Linked DNA regions of Homo sapiens: region 2 is linked to region 1. Evidence: fine-mapped expression QTL. A gene starts in region 1. The other region holds a variant in brackets. All regions are shown on one strand. Distances are between the middles of the regions.

The links.
Region 2: its variant is fine-mapped to the expression of INPP5D in whole blood (TOPMed, PIP above 0.99).

The regions. Positions count from the first base shown.
Region 1 is chr2:233,058,774-233,061,671 of GRCh38, forward strand. It overlaps INPP5D (inositol polyphosphate-5-phosphatase D), which reads left to right and starts at 1,569. Exons shown (of 27, transcript NM_001017915.3): 1 at 1,569-1,839. The coding sequence starts at 1,706. RefSeq lists enhancers at 1,244-1,523, 2,124-2,213 and a silencer at 1,724-1,803.
Region 2 is chr2:233,168,036-233,170,933 of GRCh38, forward strand. It overlaps INPP5D (inositol polyphosphate-5-phosphatase D), which reads left to right. Exons shown (of 27, transcript NM_001017915.3): 14 at 1,270-1,366; 15 at 1,991-2,129; 16 at 2,461-2,569. Among named protein-coding and RNA genes, the nearest start is that of ATG16L1, 82 kb to the right of the region's middle. The variant G/T (reference allele first, on the strand shown) is at 1,652.

The DNA.
Region 1 (2,898 bases):
GACAGGTGCTGAGTGGAGGCGTGGGTGGGGAATGAGAGGCCTCCACACTGGGCTGCTGCAGAGGTGGCGTGCTGCGGAAGGGCCGGAGCATGGAGGCCAGTTCCCATCACCACTCTATCCCCACGCCTGGCTCCCAGCCTGGCCAGAGGTCCTTGACTGGGAGTGCTTTGTCTGCCCTACAGACTCGCCTGCCATGTGTGTTGCTCAGCGGGGAGGTGCTGGGGGCCCTGTTCTGGGACAACCATCAGTGTGACACATGTTGAGCCCCTGGGCACATGTGAGCTCTTTTACGAGCTACGTCCTTCAAGTTAGACAAGAAGAAACCAAGGCCGAGAGAGAGAAGAAACTTGACCAGGTTCCCACAGCTTGAATGTGGTGGCGCTGCCTGGCTGGTGCCCCTTCCTGGAGGGAGTCTGTTGTCATGTCCTGGAGGCCAAGGCCTGGATGTGGGATGGTGGGGGCACTCTTTGTGCAGCGGGTCAACACGTGCCCCTTCGGCCTTGGTGGGCCGGACCCAAGGACGGAAGGTGCCCAGGTCTGGGGGCTGAGGGATGGGTGTCCACCGCAGAGCCCTCAGAAATGACTGGTCCTGGATGGCGGTCCCTGGAGAGGCAGCTCCTCTTTGAGTGGTGGGCATATGTGGCCATGCCCAGTCTTGGAGGCGGTGCAGTCCGACCGGCCACCCCGACTGCTGAGACGCAGGACTCAGCACCCAGTGTTGTCCTTGGCCAGGCGGCCAGCCTGCCCTGTGGGGCTTTGGGGTTCTCCTCTCCGAGCTTGTTTCCCCAGCATCCTGGAGAAGCCCAGGGAAAAACCCAGCCTATGTTCCCGCTGTAAACGGCCCACATCCCCTCCAAGCTCCCTTTGTGTGTCTCCAAGCTGGACTGCAGGGATCAGAGCTGTGCTGCCCGTGCAGCACCCACCCGCCCCTGGGAATGAGGGTAATGGGGTCACAGAGCCATCACTTGGACCTTGGCGCCCTCGGCTGGTGGCAGCCAAGGTCTCCCAGCACCCAGGCCGCTGGGAGTCTCTAAAGGGGAGGGGTGGGGCTCGACTGTCCCCTCCCCCTCAAGTTTGCTCTGTCCTGGGCAGGCCGTAGTCCCAGTTGAGAAGCTGTGCCCCCTTGGGTGTTTTGGAGGTTCAGGGTGGGTGCTGAAAAGCCCTGAGGGAGAGCAGAAGGCTCGGGGGCCTGTCTAGGGCATGGCATCCCACGTGGGTGTCAGCACGGCCGCAGAAGAACCACTTCTCTGGCCCACCCATGCCTGCTAGGCCATGCTTCTTCAGAAGTGGCCACAACTCTCCTGACGTCTCCAGAGCCGGTCATTCCACCCAGGGGGACTTCAGCTGCCACTGGACACTTCAATTGTACGCTGCGACCAGTTGCCAGGAAGGAGAGGGCTGGCAAGAGAGCCGCGGCAGCCGTGGCAGGGTGTAGGGGACGGTGGACGGCCAGGGCCCCCCCCTCTCTCTCTTTCTCTCTCTCTCTCTTGCTTGGTTTCTGTAATGAGGAAGTTCTCCGCAGCTCAGTTTCCTTTCCCTCACTGAGCGCCTGAAACAGGAAGTCAGTCAGTTAAGCTGGTGGCAGCAGCCGAGGCCACCAAGAGGCAACGGGCGGCAGGTTGCAGTGGAGGGGCCTCCGCTCCCCTCGGTGGTGTGTGGGTCCTGGGGGTGCCTGCCGGCCCGGCCGAGGAGGCCCACGCCCACCATGGTCCCCTGCTGGAACCATGGCAACATCACCCGCTCCAAGGCGGAGGAGCTGCTTTCCAGGACAGGCAAGGACGGGAGCTTCCTCGTGCGTGCCAGCGAGTCCATCTCCCGGGCATACGCGCTCTGCGTGCTGTGAGTACAACCTGCTCCCTCCCCGGGCACAGATATGACAGAGGGGCTTAGAGGGGGCCCAGCTTTGAGATGGGTTGTTCTTATGTCACAGGACAGAGTGATCTGACATGCACACTTCCCCGCCACCCTGTCATGGACCTTGTCCTTGGAGTTCAGAGAGCTGGTCTCATGGCAGGTTTTGCAGCCTTGGAGCTGTCAGAACCACTCTGAGGCCTGATGTTACACCCCAGCTTCCCATGAGCTGTATGGACCTTGTGGCTTCCTTGGAGTCTGGGGACCGAGAGAAGGGAGTTTGGGCTTTTGGAGCCAGGAGGAAGCTCAGGGCTCTGTGGAGGTGGGTGTGTTAGAGATCAGCTCAAAGATGCCCAGCTCAGAAACCCTGAGAAGAGCAAAGGTGGCAAGGGGGACCCTTCCTGGAGCACCCAGGCTTCGGGCCCCTGGAGGAAGCTGTTGTTTGGCGAGCCAAGAATATGGGGTGAGTTTAATCAAGAAAGGACTTTCCATTCAGTCAGAAGCTGCTTTCAGGGGCCTGAGAGCAGAGGAAGTCACCATTACCACCAGCGAGCAGCCTCTTCTCTCTCCTGAGCACTTGGCTGTGACCGCTGCCCACCCCCCACCCCCTCAATTTGGGTCTCTGTCACCATCAACTCCTCCCACTGCCCGGTTGGGGATGTTACTGAATGTACCAGCTGTGCTAACAATGGAGGAACCAGCCACTTGCTGAAGGTTCCTTTCTAAAACCCCCTTCCTGTCCAGCGTCTGAAGGAGGCCCTTGCCCTGCAGCTCTCGGTCTAATCATAGGGGGGCCTTGCCCTGCAGCTCTTGGTCTAATCATTTTGCCGGGGCCTCAGGCAGTGCCGGAGTGTAGTCAGGGAAATGTGTGTCCACCTGAACATCTCAAGTAGCATCCCTGGGCTGGCAGAAATGTTCCCCCGAGCAGCCAGGGCCTTGTGCTTCTCCAGGCAGGAGGGGAATTGGGTGATGAACCCAGACCTGTTTTGAATACTGACTCACAGCTGGGACCTGTCGTGCTAAGCATTTGTTAGCCCATTTCATCCT
Region 2 (2,898 bases), 110 kb after region 1:
AAGAAAAGAAAATGATGGGAGCCAAATAGATCATAAATAAATAGATTTATGATCAAAATAGATTACAATTTGATTTATTACAATCAATAGATCAAATTTTCTAGTAGCCACATTAAAAAGAAAACAAGTGAAATTAATTTCAATAATAGATTTTATTGAATTTCATACATCCAAAATACAATTATTTCAATAGATATTTAATGTAAAAGGTTATTAGATATTTTACAGTCTGTGTTTCTTACCAAGGCCACAATTCCAATGTGTATTTTACACTCACAACCTGTCTCATTTTGTACCAGCCACATTTCAGGTGTTTGATAGTCACATGTGGCCTGTGCCTGTATTGGACAGAGCAGGTTCTCACCTGCATGTGTCAGAATCACCTAGAGCAGGGGTTAACAAGCGTTTTCCATAGAAGGCCAGATGGTGAATATTCTAGGCTCTTTGGGCCACACAACTGTCACAATGCTTCAGCTCTGCCATCGTAGTCTGAAAGCAGCTACAGACAATCCAGAAGTCAATAGGCATGGCTGTGTTCCAGTAACGTGTTCTTTACGAACACTGAAATTTGAATTTCGTATTTTCATGAATGACAAAAGATGGTTTTTCTTTTGATTTGTTTCCAACCATTTACAAATGTAAAACCATTTGTAGCTGGCAGTGAGCCAGCATTTGCCCACCCCTGACACTGGAGGGCTTGTCAAACACAGATTACTGGGCCCCATCCCAGGATTTCAGATTCAGTAGGTCTGGGGTGGGGCTGAGAATCTGCCCTTCCATGAAGTTCCCAGGTGATGTGCAGCTGCTGGTCCAGGGAACTCCCTTTGGGAACCACTGACCTAGAATAGATCAGAACGTTGGCAGAAAAAGGTATGATCTCAGTGTGGGTTTTTGGTCTCCCCAGGAAACTTGAGTTCACTGGGAGGGAGATCAGCCCACCCAGGCTGGAACCTTCTGAATCTTCCCAGGGCTTCTGGCTGCCCGCTTAGCACCCTGGTCACTTTAGAGAGAGATGCCGGGGGAGGATCGCAGCAGCCACCTTCCTCTGCCCCGCCGAGAAGGCTGAGGCTGCCGCCATCTGCACTGCTCCTGCATTTTCTCATCTCCCGCTCTCTGCCCAGCGGCTCCCACCCTGCACGACCCTGTTTCGCCCATCCCTTGCCAGCTCCTCACTCACTGCCCCTCTCACCCTGCCTTCGGGTGATTTCTGGCCCCTTGGCAAGTGTGTCTGTTTGATATTTTGATTCTTCTTTCTGCTCTTCTTTTTAGGGAACAAGGGAGCCGTGGGGGTGTCGTTCATGTTCAATGGAACCTCCTTAGGGTTCGTCAACAGCCACTTGACTTCAGGAAGTGAAAAGAAACTCAGGTAATGGAACTCCTTCCCCCCAAGAGTGTGCATTTGGGCTGTCTGCCCAGACACGCCTCACACCTTTAAGCACCAGAAGGACCTGCTCAGCTCCTGCCTTTGACCTTGTGGATGTCCTGTGGCCTTTCAGGGCCCACCACAGTCTCATCAAAGGCAACTGCAGCACCATAGTGACCTCACGTGTGGAGGAATTTTGTCTGAAGGTCAGAAAAGATATTTCCTTGTGTCATTAGCCTGATGGACCGCTAACTAGCACTGTTTCTAAAGCAGAAAGCCTCCTCTGGG[G/T]CCTCCTTACAAATCCAAGCTGATCTTGCCTAGCTGGGGCCCAGGAATGAAGACAGCCATCTAGAATCTTCACTGTTCTGATTCTCTGCTGAGCAGATGCTGCTGCTCCTGGTCCCCTGCCCTCTGTACACCCAATGTGGCCTCAAATGCCCTTTGCATCCTGGCTGTGCCATATTTGCACACTAAGGAGTTCTGCTGCAGCAGGGCTGGAGGGCTAAGTCTCACTTCCCCCCACCTGCTATGCTCCTCGCCCCACACCTATGGCAGGAGTGACTTCCTGCCACAGTGGAGGGGGAACCAGTGACCCCGTGCTAGATGGCCGCTTTTTCCTTGCATTAGGCGAAACCAAAACTATATGAACATTCTCCGGTTCCTGGCCCTGGGCGACAAGAAGCTGAGTCCCTTTAACATCACTCACCGCTTCACGCACCTCTTCTGGTTTGGGGATCTTAACTACCGTGTGGATCTGCCTACCTGGGTAAGGGCTGCCCGCCTGGGGCTGGGGCTGGGGCTGTATGAGATGGAGGCTCCCTTGAGTCAGCTTGGGGCAGGTGGTCGTGGAGACATGTGAATCAAGTGGGCTGAGGCGGCTGCTCCCCTTGGGGGCTCAACGCTGTTTCCATTACTGAGCCTCAGCCGCTCCTCACGGTTCCCCTGTGCTCACACCCGGTTCCCATAACTGTCACAGCCACCCTGCCACCATCACTCTGCAGCCCGGGTCATCCAGCTGCCCGCCCCCAGCCCCGAAGCTTGTCAGGCCTGGATCAGCAGGGCTTCTCACCAGAGGCCCGGGCATGTTCTTGTTCCAGGAGGCAGAAACCATCATCCAGAAAATCAAGCAGCAGCAGTACGCAGACCTCCTGTCCCACGACCAGCTGCTCACAGAGAGGAGGGAGCAGAAGGTCTTCCTACACTTCGGTAAGAGCAGCAACCCCGGCTGGGAGCGGTGGCTCACACCTGTAATCCCAGCACTTTAGGAGGCCGAGGCGGGCGGATCACGAGATCAGGAGATGGAGACCATCCTGGCTAACACAGTGAAACCCCGTCTCTACTTAAAAAAATACAAAAAATTAGCCGGGTGTGGTGGCGGGTGCCTGTAGTCCCAGCTACTTGGGAGGCTGAGGCAGGAGGATGGTGTGAACCAGGGAGGCAGAGCTTGCAGTGAGCCAAGATCGCGCCACTGCACTCCAGCCTGGCCAACAAAGACAGACTCCGTCTCAAAAAAAAAAAAAAAAAAAGCAGCAGCC